Linked DNA regions of Homo sapiens: region 2 is linked to region 1. Evidence: fine-mapped expression QTL. Tissue or cell type: whole blood. Region 1 holds a variant in brackets; the other region holds the start of a gene. All regions are shown on one strand. Distances are from middle to middle.

Region 1 (8,181 bases):
GTCCGGGTTAACCCTTCACTTCCACTGGCACATTTTCTTTTTCCTTTCTTTCTTTCTTTTTTTTTTGACATGACGTCTCACTCTATCGCCCAGGCTGGAGTGCAGTGGTGTGATCTCGGCTCACTGCAACCTCCGCCTCCCAGGTTCAAGCAATTCTCCTGCCTCAGCCTCCCAAGTAGCTGGGACTACAGGTATGTGCCACCACGCCCAGCTAATATTTGTATTTTTTAGTAGAGATGAGATTTCACCATATTGGCCAGGCTGGTCTCGAACTCCTGACCTTGTGATCCACCTGCCTCGGCCTCCCAAAGTGCTGGGATTACAGGCGTGAACCACTGCGCCTGGCCCACATTTTCTTATTTAATCTATTAGGAGTACTGATTCGTTAATTAAGTCAGTAAGTCCTTCTCCTCCTGCTCCTTTTCTGGAAGACATTTTGCCTTTGAAGTGGATTTTATCTATCATGCACTGCCTAACTAGCTTGACTCTTGGTCTCTGGACATGTCTCCAGACATGTCTCCCAGTCACCAATGGGCCACCTCCAAGGCAGGACCTCCATTGTGCCAACTCAACAAAGCAGGCTGGGCTACGTGTCCAATAAGTGCTGTGGAACAGCAGAAGGGAGAGCCTTTACTCAGCTCATCCAAAGAACTTCATGGAACGGGTGGGATTGGTACAGGTTTTGGAGGATGCTGGAATTTGAATAGGCAGAAAGAAGAGGGAGGTGGTATATTTAGGTGAGCAAAGACTTGGAAGAAGGCAAGAAGAAAGAGGGGACAGGCCTGCTAAGGAGAAAGCTATGAAGGAGAATCTGGGGAGGTTAGAGCCAAAGGAGCTCATGCAATGGCAACGGGGAGCCATGGAAGGCTTTTGGGCGGGAGTGACACGATCAAAGTATGATTTTAGGAAAACTAAGCTGGCAGTGGAAGAAGAGTCTGGTTTTAGGCAGATCAAATGCCAAGTAAAAGATTCCCAGAATAGAATTATAAATAGAGTTTCCACAAATACAAAAACTCTTGCCCTAGTTCACCCTAGCATCTATCTGTCTGTGGAGGGGGATCAGAATTTGTCATAAATGGAACTCCAAGAGAAGGGTAAAAAGGTAATATTGTGTTGCTATATTCAAAAATAGCATTAAGCAGCAAAAACACATTTTGCAAGCCAGACTGTTACCTAAAGAAAGGATCCCCCAAGTTTCTTTCTTCCTTCGGCGTGTCAGCATGTGGGCTTGGAGGACTCAGCCCACAGAGTTCCCCTGCAGTGCATAGGAGAGATCCCACTTCATCATTAAAGCTTAGCTGGAAGCAGAATGAAGGAAGATATGATGTAGGAGAAGTAAATGAAAAGCCCACATTTTTTCTGGCTTGGTAGATGGAGGAGAGAGAAAAAAGAGAGTGAGGAGACAAAGCAGGCAGGTGTGGGACCCCCCGTATCCCTGTCAAGGCTTGCACTGGGACAGGGAAAGGGAGCATTAAATAAGTTCAAGGTTGACGTCAAGGACAGATGATCACATGATCATATCCAGTCTGCCTGCCATGGCAGGATGAGGTGTCTCATGGCAGAAGCTGGGGAGGGCAGCTGGGCAAGAGGGCAGGGGCAGGACAGGGCAGACACTCAGGGGCTTCCCTAATCACGTAAGGGAAGACCAGGTCACAAGGCACTCCAGCCTCAGATGTCAGTGGGGCAAGAGGAATTCAGGTGGGTCAAACTCATCACCCAGGGAACAGAGTGGGAGTGGACACCATCATCGAGGACTACAAGTGTTTGCTGTTGCTGTAAGCAAATGTAAACCCTTCTCTGATACCACCAGACACCATCTTGAAGCCAGAAGAGGTGAAGGACAGGCAGTCTTAGAGACTGAGTATCTGTATCCAAATGCAAGACAGTTTCCTAAAGAGGCCAATTCAGTGAACAGATGGAACCATGTTTAAACAAGATGGAATATAGAATTAATTTTTTCCACTAATCAGTGGGTGGGGGTGGGTGGACCTCAGGAGAACAGACCATGTTAAAGATGGAAAATTTTTAAATTGCACTCACTTTCCCCTGCACATCAGAGTGGCAGTGAGTTACATTTTGCTCTACCAAAGTATGAACTAGGTAGAAGAGACAGGAAGCTATGGGGTCAGAAAACTGGGCCAACATTTGGCTATGCCCTCAAATTGTACCTAGAAAACCCAATAATCTTACAGAATGTGGTGAACCTGTGCATGTCTCGTTTCTGCTAAAGCCGCTGTTAATAAGAACATCTGTCTCTCCCTCTGAGATGAAGCAGGGTTACAGGTGGCAAACGTCCAGCACTAATTAGCACTCTGCAATAAGCAGCTCTCCATCTTGAGGGGTAACGTCCCTATCTCTCCCCATCTCATGCCTCAGCTCTCAAAGAAACAAGCCCATAAACTGGGGATGGATCAACACTTCACAACCCGTATCATCATGCAGTGTGCAGCTCTTGTGTATATCCTAGTGGAAGCTGAGTTTGTTGGCTAATAGGATACAAGACAGGAAGAGCTTAGAATCAAGGGTCCAGTAGACAGAGGAGTAGGCAAGACCGTCTCTATTACTTTCTCCTCTGAGACTGAGGACAAGTCACACAAATGTGGTCAGAAACTCATGTTCTGAGAACTGAGAGAGCCAGCGGTAGGAGAGTCATTTTTAGTTGCAAAGAAACATTGCAGTGGATTGAACTGATGAGAGACAGGCTGCTTGCTGGAGTCTCAGCAACCAGCTTTTCTGAAAGGAAAGAGAGGTGGGTGACCACACTGCCAGCACCTTCTCCTGACTGTCTTGCATTTGCTCCTCCGTCATTGGAACCTGATAACCAATTCTTCGTATAGTAAGGGGATACTACTGAAGTTTTCAGTATTGTTAACATCAATCAAAACAGTTGTTATGTTGCCTTCTTATATGTACATTGAAAAGCTTACTGCATTTATTTTCAATGTGAAGGGTACGTGATAGCAACCTTAAAGGAAAAAAAAAGTTTAAAAATCAAAATCACCCATAATCCCAATATTCTAACTCAAAACAGCCTTTTCCTGTTTTGCACATTACCTTCCACATCCACACTTGCTTTACAACCTTGTAATCAAGTGTATAGACAGTATGGTATTCCCCTTTTGTTTTCATTAATGATATGTCAAAAGCATTTTCCCACATTTTCATAAAAATGATTAATAATGGGGCTGGGCACGGTGGCTCACATCTGTAATCCCAGCACTTTGGGAGGCCAAGGTGGGCAGATCACTTGAGGTCAGGAGTTTGAGACCAGCCTGGCCAACCTGGTGAAACCCCATCTCTACTAAAAATACAAAAAATAGCCAGGCATGATGGCACGCGCCTGTAATCCCAGCCACTCAGGAGGCTGAGACAGGAGAATCACTTGAACCCGGGTGGTGGAGGTTGCAGTGAGCCGAGATCGCACCACTGCACTCCAGCCTGGGCAACAGAGCGAGAATCTGTCTCAAAAAAAAAAAAAAAAGATGAATAATGGCTACAATCTATTTCCTCATATGTCATATCATGATTTACACCATGTGTTTTCTAAGTTCAAAGCAGAGGCTCTGTCCCACCTACCACTGTGGCCACCACGGTGCTCTGTCATAATGGAACCTCAACAGACCTGTCAGGACATCATGTCCAAGATCAATAATCAATAGCATGACAGCATCAGTATTCATCTTGGCCTTTGTCAGCCTCCAAGGTTTCCCGCCTCATCCCACAGCTGCCTCCACCTATTAATAAGGTCTCTCCTCCCTCAGCCCATTTCCTACACAGAAGTGGAAATCCCAGGTAGGCACACTGGCTCACACTTGGCAATCCCAGCACTTTGGGAGGCCGAGGCAGGAGGATCACTTAAATTCAGGAGTTCAAGACCAGTCTGGGCAACATAGTGAGACCCTGTCTCTATAAAAAATAAAAATAAAAAAGTATCCAAGTGCAGTGGTGCATACCTGTAGTCCTAACTACTCGGGAGGCCAAGGCAGGAGGATCGCTTGAGGCCAGGAGGTCAAGGCTGCAGTAAGCCATGTTTGTGCCACTGCACTCCAGCCTGGGCAACAGAGTGAGGCCTTGTCTCTGGGGGGAAACCCTAGAGGCCCACCACAGTCCCAGCCCCTTCCAGGCAGGCCTGAAAGGAACGGCAACCACAGAGCCACGGATGGTTCCAGAGGGCTGCAGCAGCGGAACAGCAAGCCCCACTGCCCTGTGTTCCGAATTGGTCACAGCCGTGTCCGTTCGTGTTGTGGCCCTGGCCAAG[G/A]CTGTGGTCATTGCCCAGTTCTCAGCTCCTGTTTATTTCCCACGCCTGTCTCTGCAGCCCTCTGGCAAGTCTAAGGGCTACCCAATATACTGTCAATAAATCTCTTTTCTATGTCAACTAGCCTGAGTCTGTTTCTGTTTCTGTTGTTTGCAGAGACAACAGAAACAGACTAGTTCAATCCTCATTTTCTATTCCTATCAAAGTCTGTCCAAGAGAGAACTGAAAATCTATTTCCACTGAGGCAGAAAAGTACTCTCTCTCATTCATACAAAGCTTTACTACATACAATATTCTTTTTTCATTATGCATGCTGTCTTTTGATTTGTCAAGTCGAAGCATTATAACTTACCTATATGTATTATGTTCAACTAAAAGATAAGAAAAATAGGGCCCAGAGTGGCTCAGTGAATGATCCAGGGTCACACAGTAAATCATCGAGTCTTCTAATTCGAAATTCCGAGCTATCTTCACTTATCAGGCTACCTCCCACTTCAACAGGCTCGATTTCAGGCATTGCAGGATGGCAGGAAACTAACTGGGGGTAGGGAGAGGGAATACAGAATGGGGGAGGCTTCTCAGATGGAGAAATTAGAAGGAGTAGGCATATAGAACAAGCAGTGATTTCTGCCAGTTGAGGGGGAAAGAAGTCTTGGAGACACATTCACATGCATACACTCACACACTCACACTCACACACACTCACCCGGCTTACACGCCCTCTCTGCTTTTCCATTACGATGTGCTAAGCCTCCCATGAATTGGTGAGCAGCCACCCAGTCCGGCAAAGCACACCTTTGATGAGCTTCTATTTCTGTGACACTAAGTATTCCATCCTGTGGACTTGAAAACCTAACACCCTCAGTTGAAATGACTCACACATTGAGACCCTGGTGAGGTAGAGGGAACGAGTTTGGTATGAGGGCAGCCAGACCCCCGCCTCCTGCTGCTGAACGACCCTCGCGCTACCTGCAGGCGGGAATTCAACCAGCTTTGGAAAGGTTCAGACATAAATGCAGGGAGCAGCCCCGAACAGGTGACAAAGAAACGTGAGAGGTAGGCCCCTGACTGTGTGAGGCAGACCCCTAGCATTGTAAGGCTGAAATCACAGAAGACGAGTAGAGGCCCCTCCCACAGATCCACTGCCACTGACGGAATAGCGGGCTCCGCCGGGCCCACGCAACACAGTGGGAAGCACACAGCAGTGCCGGAGACGCCAACGTGCCAAAACGAGAAAGCGAGGAAGCTGCATCCAGCTGAGCTCTGGAGCTAACCATGATTTATTAGACACAGGAAGGTGTCTTAGCTTGGGTTCCATCGAGAGAAGAGCCTGGGACCGGGATTTGGGAGCAGGTCATTTATTTGGGAGATGGTCTCAGGAAGGAGTGTGGGAGGGTGAAAACCCAGAAGAAAAGACAATGAGTGTGTGTTACTGACAAAGGGTGGGCACCCTGTTTTAATACATGAATGATGAAGATTAAGTATAATGTATGGTAATAAATAATAATAATAATAAAGGCCCACAAAGGATGGTTACTATTGTGGGTAATAGAGGCTCAGTCTTGCTGGGGATCCTCTGAAGAACCATGCAGAATGTACCTCAGAGTTATCCGACCAGAGGATGGGGAAGTTGGAGAATGTAGGTACCACTGGGTTTTTTGTTTGTGTGTGTGTGTGTGTGTGTTTTTGAGATGGAGTCTCGCTCTGTTGCCCAGGCTGGAGTGCAGTGGCACCATCTCTGCTCATTGCAACCTCCACCTCCTGGGTTCAAACGATTCTCCTGCCTCAGCCTCCCAAGTAGCTGGGATTACAAGGATGTGCCACCACGCCTGGCTAAATTTTGTATTTTTAGTAGAGACAGGGTTTCACCATGTTGGCCAGGCTGGTCTCAAACTCCTGGCCTCAAGTGATCTACCCACCTTGGCCTCTCAAAGTGCTGGGATTACAGGTGTGAGCCACCATGCTCAGCCCCATTGGATTTTTCTTTTTGTTTTTTTTTGTTCTTTGTTTTGTTTTGAGACAGAGTCTCACTCTGTGGCCCAGGCTGGAATGCAGTGGTGCAATCACCGCTCATTGCAGCCTCAACTTCCTGGGCTCAAAGGATCCTCCTGCCTCAGCCTCCTGAGTAGCTGGGACTACCGGCACATGCCACCATGCCCAGCTAATTTTTAATTTTTTTTGTAAAGGCAAGGTCTTATTATGTTGCCCAGGCTGGTCTGGAACTCTTGAGTTCAAGTGATCCTCCCACCTCGGCCTCCTAAAGTCTGGGATTACAGGCATGAGCCGCTGTGCCCAGCCATTTCATTGGTTAATGGTTGTCCTGGGAGCGTTAGTCCTTCCCCCATTACCTCCCTCTCCCGACGAACACACACGATGTTCAGGAGAAAACCATGAGTCAGTGAAGCAGAATAACAGCTGCAGTGCTTAACGTGGGGCCACAATTTCCAGAATGTAAGCAATGCTGAAACCAGGCATGCCCAGGCAGTGTGGCATGCAAACCTCTGCTACCCCGGGATGGAGGAGTGTGCTCAATGTCACCGTGGGGATGCCATCAGCCAAATCCAAACAACTGTGGAAAATGTCTGCAGGACTCATGGCCTGGTTTCTTCCACAATTAAATGGCATTTAAAAAAACAAAAACAAAAAAAAGAAGGGGAACAGACATAAGAAACATACCCATCCAACACCACACTTACTCTTTTAAGGATCCTAATTTGAACAAACCAACAGTAAAAAGACTGTTTTGAGACAACTGAGGAAAACGGAATGTGGCCTACATGTGGGATAATATTAAGAAACTTATTGGCTGGGCGCAGTGGCTCATGCCTGTAATCTCAGCACTTTGAGAGGCCAAGATGGGAAGATCACTGGAGCCCAGGAGTTTGAGAACAGCTTGGACAACGTAGGGAGACCCTGTCTCTACAAAAAATTTAAAAATTAGCTGGGCGTGGTGGCATGTGCCTGTGGTCCCAGCTACTCAGAAGACTGAGGTGGGAGGATTGCTTAAGCCCAGGAGGTCGAGGTTGCAGCGAGCTGTGATGCTCCAGCCTAGGCGACAGAGCAAGACGCCATTTCCCCCCACCCACCCCCCTCAAAAAAGAAAAAGAAATATATTCTGTTAGGTCTGAGAATGGCATGTAGTTGAGTTTGTTTTTTTGAAGTCCTTTCCTATTAGAAATCTATACTGAAATCTTGATGGATGAAATTACATGATGACTGAGATTTGCTTTAAAAGACTCTAGCAAAAAAAAAAATGTTGGTGCGAGTGTAGATGAACTAAAAATAGCAAAATGATGATCATTGTTGAAGCTGGGTGGTAGGTATAATATGGTAGTATGCAATTTTCTCTACTTTTATGAGAAATGTCTATAAACAAGGTTACATTTGGGAAAAAAAAGGAAAGCAATAATAGGCTCCAGGAGGCATCATCTATCCACTGCTCGTTTACTGAGTAGCTTTTTTGCGTGTTCAAAGATGAGTGAGACAATCTCTACCCTCTGTGAGCAGAAGGTGGAGGGACAAAGAGGAGTTAAGTCCTCAAGCCTTGCGTGCAGTTAAGAAACAATACCACACCACCCCTGGAGGCCACCTCGCAGCAGTGATTAACCAACTTCCATGGCAGTAACATTGACAGTGAGTGCTGGATGGAGTCTGCACTGGAGAAGAGAGAAAAGGTGTGGGGCTTCACACCTTCCCCCATTCTGGAGCCTACAGCTTAATCGCCTGTATTAAAACCTTCCTTCTAAACCCTCATTTTTATAAAATCCAATTTGATTTCTGATTCTTAACATTCCTGTACGTTCAGTCAGCTAATACACTTAAATACTGTTATTAGTGTTTTGAGAACTCCTAGAAGAAGCAGAATTGGGTGGTTAGGGGTTGAACAGAGAGGCAGGAGAGAAGTAGAAACTTTGTTTTGGGAAGGC
Region 2 (8,181 bases), 190 kb after region 1:
AGAATATTTGAGATTTCTGGTTTTGATTAAATAGTTTTAGTAAATACATTCGTTGTGTTTCAACTTAAACCGGTTAATACTTTTTGTTTCCTTCTTAAAAACAGTTGGATTCACAGTACTGTAGGTGTAATGGGGGAAAAAAAAAAAAAAGCCGGGTTGCCTGGATTTGTTTCTCGGCTCCCTGTGTGACTAGGCGTGACCCTGGGCACGCTGTGCTCCTTCCTCACATGTAAAGTGAGGAGAATCCCAGTTAAGGATTCGCATCAGGCAGTAGGTTTGAAACCCCTCAGAGAATACCAGTCACATAAGAGGGACTCTTTTTTTCTTAGTCTTGGTAAAATGATATGATTTGGGATTTGCTTCAGAATAATCCATAGGAGGGATGGATGGGCTCATTTCACTCTTTGCTTCTGTAGATATTTAAAGTTGTCCATAAAGTTTTCTTAAAATGACGCCTGGGGTTCAACTTATGATTAGTAAATCAATATGGTTCATTTTGCTGTATTCACATTCCCATACATGCATAACCAAGCAGAGAAGCTGGGGCACCCGCGGAGAACTGCAGGCCACAGCGTCAGGCAGCGGCTCCAAAGCAGCACAAGGGGACACTTTCTGACACTGCTCAAAGTTCTCAGGTGGCATTTATAAACTGCAGAACCACCACCGAAACTCAGCCTTATTTCTAAGAGATTGTTTGTGTGTGTAATGATTATAAAATGCGACTAGCCATTTTACAGAGTGAAATCACAATACTTTAATGAAGTGCTGGGCTGGGTGTGGTAGCGAGTGCCTGTTGGTCCCAGCTACTCAGGAGGCTGAGGTGATGATGCCTTCAGCCCCAGAGGTGGAGGCTGCAGTGAGCCCTGATCACACTGCTGCACTCAAGCCTGTGTGACAGAGTTGTCAGGCCTCTGAGCCCAAGCTAAGCCGTCATAACCTGTTACCTGCACGTATACATCCAGGTGGCCTGGAGCAACTGAAGAACCACAAAAGGAGTGAAACAGCCAGTTCCTGCCTTAACTGATGACATTCCACCATTGTGATTTGTTCCTGCCCCACCCTAACTAATCAATCGACCTTGTGGCATTCCTCCCCTGGACAATGAGTCTCAGGAGCTCCCCACAGAGCACCTTGTGACCCCCTTCCCCTGCTAACAATAGATAACCACCTTTAACTGTAATTTTCCACTACCTACCCAAATCCTATAGTACTGCCCTACCCATCTCCCTTTGCTCTTTTCAGACTCAGCCCACTTGCACCCAAGTGAATAAACAGCCTTGTTGCTCACACAAAGCCTGTTTGGTGGTCTCTTCACGTGGACGCGCCTAACAAGAGACCCTGTCGCAAAACAAAAACCACCAAAAACCAAAACAAAGTGCGGTAGAATTGTGACAAGGTGAGTCTTAAGTCATGGCAGCACTTCAAAAAAAGGCAAAGTAGCTTCCTACCAGTGTGGTGTAGCAGTGAAACTGCAAGTTCTGCAGTCATAGCAGCTGGACTTGGATCTGTCTGCCCCTGACTAGGGAAGAGGCCTTGGCCATTTCCTTGATTTGTCTGAGTCTACCCAGCCATCAGTGCTCAACCCTAAAATATCTAATTGGTCAGACTGAGTGAAGAGTAAATGTTTTCTGTTCCTTCTCCTATATACTGATTAGGGGAGGCAAGCAAAATTAATAAAGGAGGAATGTTCTGTTCAGAACTATCCTTCATCCATAAGACGGATCCCTAAGACATTTTCCATCCATAAGAACTCAAGTATCGGAAACCATTCTCACCTGACCAGCCTGTCAGCCAGCGATGCTCCCCATCCACCCTGCTGGAAGGAAAACTGGAGGAAGAAAAGCCCATTATTACTACTAATGACTGTAACCGGGCATCTCAGCGAGGGCAGTTCTGATTGGCAACTTCTGTTTTCTCGGCGCTCCCTTCTTGGCTTTGATTGCTTCACTCCAGGAGGTCATTTTGGGGATTACAGGTAAGTACACCTGGCAGCACTTTAGCAGAGGGGGATTTTTCTCTATCAAAAGCTAAACAGCCTGTATTCCCAGCACTTTGGGAGGCCAAGGCGGGCGGATCACATGAGGTCTCGAGTTCGAGACCAGCCTGGTCAACATGGCGAAACCCCGTCTCTACTAAAATTACAAAAATTAGCCCGGTGTGGTGGCGCACGTCTATAATCCCAGCTACTCGGGAGGCTGAGGCAGGAGAAACGCTTGAATCCGGGAGGCGGAGCTTGCAGTGAGCCGAGATCGCGCTACTGCACTCCAGTCTGGGCGACAGAGCGAGACTCCGTCTCAAAAAAAGAAAAAAAGAAAAAAAAAAAAAAGCTAAACAGAAATCTAAGTTCAGGAAATAAAGTCAAAGGTCAGTGAGGAAATGAAGGCCACACCGCCTCACTGCTTTGCTGGTTACCGAGCTGAGGGTGAACACTTTTTCATACACATTCCCATGGAATTCGGCAGCTCTGACTGCCCCATATGCCTAAACATAATGTTACCAGTTACTGGCGTATACACAAAAGCCTGGTGAAGCAAGTCCTGTCTGAGAAGAGGACACACACAGGAATGGAATTTCTACTCCCTCCCCGAAGTAAGAACCTGCATTTAGAAGACCGTTCCCTTCATGGGAGGTGAGATGATCTTGGATGAACGGATGGTCCTTTTCTACCTAATTCCTGAAGGCGTTTTACTTCCAAGGTCAACCCCTAACGGCCCCACCTGTGCCCGCAGGGAATGGGGCGAGAGAGCTCCTGGCGCCTCTGCCCGGAGCTGGCCGCGGGGCCTCCTGGGACACAGCGCGCGGTCGCCCGCGGCCGCTAACCCGGACCCGGAGGGGAAAGGCCGCTGCCCAGGAGGGCGCTGAGGGGAAGACCGCGCATCTCGACCCGGGTGGGAGGCGGCGCGGGGCGGGCAGCGCGGCCGGGTCCCCTCGCGTCTGTGCCTGGAGCCCGGGCTCTCGCGGACGCCGTCGTGACCTCCGGGACGCCGCGGGCCCGGAAGGCGCAGCCACTGGGGGACCCGCCACTCCTCCGGTGTCTCCACGGGCGTGGCCAGGCCTCCGGCCCAGCCGTCTCGGGCGCCGAAGAGGACGGCGAGGAGCCTCGGCCTGCTCGGCAGCGACCCCGCAGGGAGGCCGGGGCGGGAGGCCGAGCGTCGGGGCGGCCGTACCTGGGTGATGGAGTCCCCGAAGAGCAACAAGCGAGGCCAGAGCAGGGCACTCCCGCAGCCCGCGGCCTCGCACAGCGCCATGGAGCAGCCGGGCGGGGCGGGGCGGGGCCGCCAGCCACGAGAGGCGCCTGCGCAGTGGCCGCCCGTGGGTTGCGGGAGCCGGGCTCGTGGGCACCCACGCAGTCACTTTGGTGACGCGCGAAGGTCGTTGCCCCTTGGAGTCCGTTTGCAAGAAGCTCGGCCTCCGCGCTTGCTCACCCACAGCAAGGCTGCCCCCAGGGAGTCCGGAGCCCGCGTCCCGCTGCGTGGTTCCCGGAAGAAAAGCGGTTGGGGGCCCTTCTAAGCCCACCCCGCGCTCCGCGGGCGCAGGTGCGTTCGGCAAAGGGCAGGAGTGTGACCTCAGGACGCGCGGCGGGAAGCACAGCTGGCTCTCGGTGGGGCGGAGGGCTGCTCCAGGCCCCCCTGGAAGAGGTCGTGGGATGCGCGCGCGGCCTCCTGCGCCCAGCGTCACTCTGGAGGGCCTGTAACACCCACGAGGACGCAGGCACTGCGGAAACCCTGGCAGTACCTCGTGGTTCTGCGAATGACAAGGGAAAGCAGCTGCACCTTCAGTGCGCGCGCAGCCGGCCGCTTTTCTTTTTCCCGCCGTGGGGTGGATGCGCAGATGCAGAACCCCGCGGACACGGAGCACTGACTAACTTCCAAGGGATTCACCTGTTAAAACGTGGTTGTAATGCAACGTTCTTACCTCAACTGTGCAATGAAGTTCGGCAGCCGAGCTAAAAACGAACGGGTGGGAAGGATGCCTTGAAATCACGGAGCTGTAGATGAGTAACAGAAGGGCCAGGGGCGCCGGCGCAGAGGCCGACCCCGCTCCCTGGGGCGGGGCGATGGGCGTAGAGCATGACTTTCTTTAGGTTGCTCGTCCCAAGCTCGCTTGGATCACCTGGGGGAGCTTTACAACTAAGATCCAACCTAGGGCCCTCATTCCAGCCGGACTAACTCACCTCCTGGTGGCAGGACTTGGGCACAGGTGCACTTGTGATGCACCCCACGTGATTCCCACGGGTAGCCCAGATTGAGAGCCCCTGCTAGAGCAAGCAAAGGTGCCTGGACTTCATCTTTATCACAAGGACTTCATTAAGGCCTTCAAGCAGCAGAGGCTTGAGGCCAGGTCTGTTCCAGGAATCAGCTATAGGGGAGGAGATGGAGGTGGTTGCAGGAATTCAGAGGGGAGAGTAGACTTGGACTCGAACAGCAGCAGTGGAGATGAAGACAGAAAAGATTCAAGTGCAACTTAGAATCCTTATTATTAACTCAAATTGGTTACCCCAGAGGAGAGGGTAACCAGCAGCGGTTGCTATCGGCAGATCTTGATGGTTTCAATGGGAGCTGCACATACATGCCTGGAAGAAGAATCCAAAATTCTAAAATAATGGGCAGTTGATCTAGTAGTTAGTTCTAGAATAATGGACAAATTAATTAGCAATTTAGCAGTATTCAGGCTGTTGAAATAAAGGCCATTTGACATTAAAAGTAAACAGGCTCCCCCAGAGAAACGAATGCATTTTATTTTAGGTAACAAAAGTAGAGTCAAGTATTTTTTCAAAGTTCATATACAGGCACAGTCTCAGTGAACTGGCGTCAGGGCCTCGTACAGTCTCTGTGCAGCCAGCTCCACCATTTCTCGGAGGGATTCATCGTCTTCACTTCCCTCTTCACATTCTACAGTCTGAAAGTGAGGCACAAACAAGACTGTTAGAATTAAGTCTATAATGATTATATAGAAGATAAATGAATACTCTTTAAAAAAACCATCATCTCATAAAAAATTAGCCAGCTGTGGTGGCGTGTGCCTGTGGTCCCAGATAAGAGTCTGAGGTGGGAGGATCACTGAGCCGGGAAGGTTGAGGCTGCAGTGAGCTGTGACTGCACCACTGCACTCCAGCCTGGGCGGCACTGCGAGACCGGGTCTCAAACTAAAAAAAAGAACAATCATCTGTGTGTGCAGAGGTCATGGTGGGACTGATTACCATGAAACAGAACGGCCGCCCTACACACTTGTGGGCGTGCAGTGCTTCCTGACAGCAGCACGGTCCTAATTAGTGATGACTTGAGGCTGGGGTGAAAGACTGGGGAAAGTCTAGTAAACTACATTTACATCAAAGCCCACAGTTTGATCTAGTAAATGATACTCCAGGGAAGTTCATCTATGCCACACAAATTACTTGGCAAGGAATGGATGTGGCTATCTACTCAACATTTGGTACTGAATTTGACTGAAACTCACTAATAATCTTCTAGTTGCTTCTTTTTTTTTTTTTTTTTGAGACAGAATCTCGCTCTGTCGCCCAGGCTGGAGTGCAGTGATGTGATCTCAGCTCACTGCAACCTCTGTCTCTTGGGTTAAGGTGATTCCTGGGTTCTCCTGCCTTAGCCTCCCAAGTAGCTGGGATTACAGGCACACCACCACGCCTGGGTAATTTTTGTATTTTTAGTAGAGATGGGGTTTCATCATGTTGGCCAGGCTGGTCTCAAACTCTTGACCTCAGATGATCCACCCACCTTGACCTCCCAAAGTGTTGGGATTACAGGCGTGAACCACCACGCCTGGCCTCTAGTTCTTTTTTTTTTTTTTTTTGGAGACAGAGTCTCGCTCTATCATCCAGGCTGGAGTGCAGTAATGTGATCTTGGCTCACTGCAACCTCTGCCTCCCTGTTTCAAGCAATTCTCCTGCCTCAGCCTCCTGAGTAGCTGGGACTACAGGCAGCTGCCGCCATTCCCGGCTAATTTTTTTTGTATTTTTTAGTAGAGATGGGGTTTAACTGTGTTGCCCGGGCTGGTTTTGAACTGTTTGGAAAATCCACTTGGATCTTGCTGGTGCAAACAGAAGAGCGGCTTCTTTAAAAAATGGAGAGTCAACTAGATGCCAAACTAGAGAAGGGATGAGGTGAACTAAGCTGTATTATGGAAGAGGACAGCAATGGAGTGGCATACACGCGAACCTTGTACTATGCAGTAACCCGGAAAAACACGGAAAACTTCAACCATAATAATATAAAAAGAACAATGTGAAAAAAATGTTGGAAACACTGGAAGCAAATGCCAATATGCAACAGTAGACTGTTGAGTGTGAGAGCACAGATTATTTATGCCTTCACTTTATTTCCCAAATGTCTTGAAACGTAGGAAAGAGCAGCTACATACCCGTGTCTCCAAGTTAAGGTTGGCAGTTTTCCCGTCCACTGTGACGCTAAGAATAGAGTCATCCTTTACACTTACACAGTCTTCTCCAAATATGTCCCTGAAAATAAGCAGAAATGCAGGATTAGTGAAAATGCCCGGCTTTATATATTTGAGGAAAAAATAAAACTGAAGATAGGTCCTAGTTCTAAAGCAGAATACTGTATTTACTTTTTTTCTTTTTTTTTTTGAGATGGAGTCTTGCTCTGTGGCCCAGGCTGGAGCGCAGTGGCACAATCTTGGCTCACTACAACCTCCGCCTCCCGGATTCAAGTGATTCTCCTGCCTCAGCCTCCCTAGTAGCTGGGATTACAGGTGTGCACCACCACAGCCAGCTAATTTTTGTATTTTTAGTAGAGTCAGGGTTTCACCATGTTGGCCAGGCTGGTCTTGAACTCCTAGCCTCAAGTGATCCACCTGCCTTGGCCTCCCAAAGTGTTGGGATTACAGGCAGGAGTCACCATGCCCAGCCTGTATTTACTTTTGAGACAAGCTTCTTATTTGCCTTGATACAGCTTATTAAGTTTATAAAACAGGGAAAATACACAGCTTTATTCAAGAATGATCTATTCAGCAGGCATCATGCTAGGTGGTTTATATACATTATCTTAACCTATAATTTTAGTAAGGATCCCCTTTTACATGTGAAGAAAACAAGACACAGAAGTTAAGTGATTTGCTTAAAGCCTCACAGCTAGTAAACAGCTGAGCCGGCATTCAAATCCAGGTATCTAGGTTTAAATGGCTCCCAAGCCCACTAGCTGTGCACTCCTACTTTAATTAAACTTGGTATTTATTGAGCATCTTCTGTGTGGCAGATTCCTTCTGTGCTAGTAGCTGGGGATAAAGAAGGCACTAAGACATTGCCTCTGTCATCGAGAGAAACAGTTTTGATGGTTAATTTCAACATCGTCCCCATTGGTACAGAGGTGTTAGGAAACAGCAGTCCACCAGCAGGCTGAATGCAGGTAAGAAAGGCAGGCAGTGACTCTAAACAACCCATGGACCATGGTCAGCCTAGGACAGTTAAGCACTGACAACACTGTATTAAGCGGGGGAAGTGGGGAGTGGGAATCAACTCCTTGCATCTTCAGGCAGTTACTGCTCATCATATGTGTGAATAAACTTAGGTGGGACCCTAGCACAAAGGAAAAGATTATATTTTATTTTATTTATTTATTTTGAGACGGAGTCTTGCTTGTTGCCCAGGCTGGAGTGCAGTGTCCCGATCTCGGCCCACTGCAACCTCTGCCTCCTGGTTTAAGCAATTCTCCTCCCTCAGCCTCCTGAGTAGTTGGGATTACAAGCACCCACCACCACACCTGGCTCATTTTTGTATTTTTAGTAGGGGTATTTTGGATGGGGTTTTGCCATGTTGGCCAGGCTGGTCTCGAACCCCTAACCTCAAGTGATCCACCTGCCTTGGCTTCCCAAAGTGCTGGGATTACAGGTGTGGGTCACCACACCCAGCCAAAAAAATTATATTTTAAACACAGAAATGTATTCAAAAGGATAGGAAAAAAGGTTCCATTTTCATGTGATCCACTGTTGGCTTCTCTGAAGAAACCAATACATCTACTCCTATCTAATCCTAAGTGTTTAAACAACTGGGGAAATAGCTGCATTTTTAAGGGTACGATTGGCTTTGAAGTTTAAGGACATGGGAACCTCCCATTCCTGGCCGAATGGAAGCTGTCTCATACTCCTGTTCCTCAGAGTTGAATAGTTCTGGTGTGTTTGTGGGAGGTGAGGGAGAGGGAGGGGAGGCGG

The links. PIP is the estimated chance that this variant, and not a neighbour inherited with it, causes the effect.
Region 2: IAH1 starts here. The variant in region 1 is fine-mapped to the expression of IAH1 in whole blood (TOPMed, PIP above 0.99).

The regions. Positions count from the first base shown.
Region 1 is chr2:9,657,618-9,665,798 of GRCh38, reverse strand. The region is part of intron 3 of LOC105373418 (a long non-coding RNA gene); the gene reads right to left. It overlaps LOC105373419 (a long non-coding RNA gene), which reads right to left and starts at 5,322. Exons shown (of 2, transcript XR_922779.2): 1 at 4,962-5,322; 2 at 4,516-4,793. RefSeq lists an enhancer at 7,552-8,112. The variant G/A (reference allele first, on the strand shown) is at 4,259.
Region 2 is chr2:9,469,634-9,477,814 of GRCh38, reverse strand. It overlaps IAH1 (isoamyl acetate hydrolyzing esterase 1 (putative)), which reads right to left and starts at 3,264. Exons shown (of 6, transcript NM_001039613.3): 1 at 3,168-3,264; 2 at 1,776-1,828. The coding sequence starts at 3,248. It overlaps CPSF3 (cleavage and polyadenylation specific factor 3), which reads right to left. Exons shown (of 18, transcript NM_016207.4): 17 at 6,376-6,472; 18 at 4,714-4,899. The coding sequence ends at 4,798. RefSeq lists enhancers at 1,645-2,205, 2,686-3,453 and a silencer at 2,723-3,492.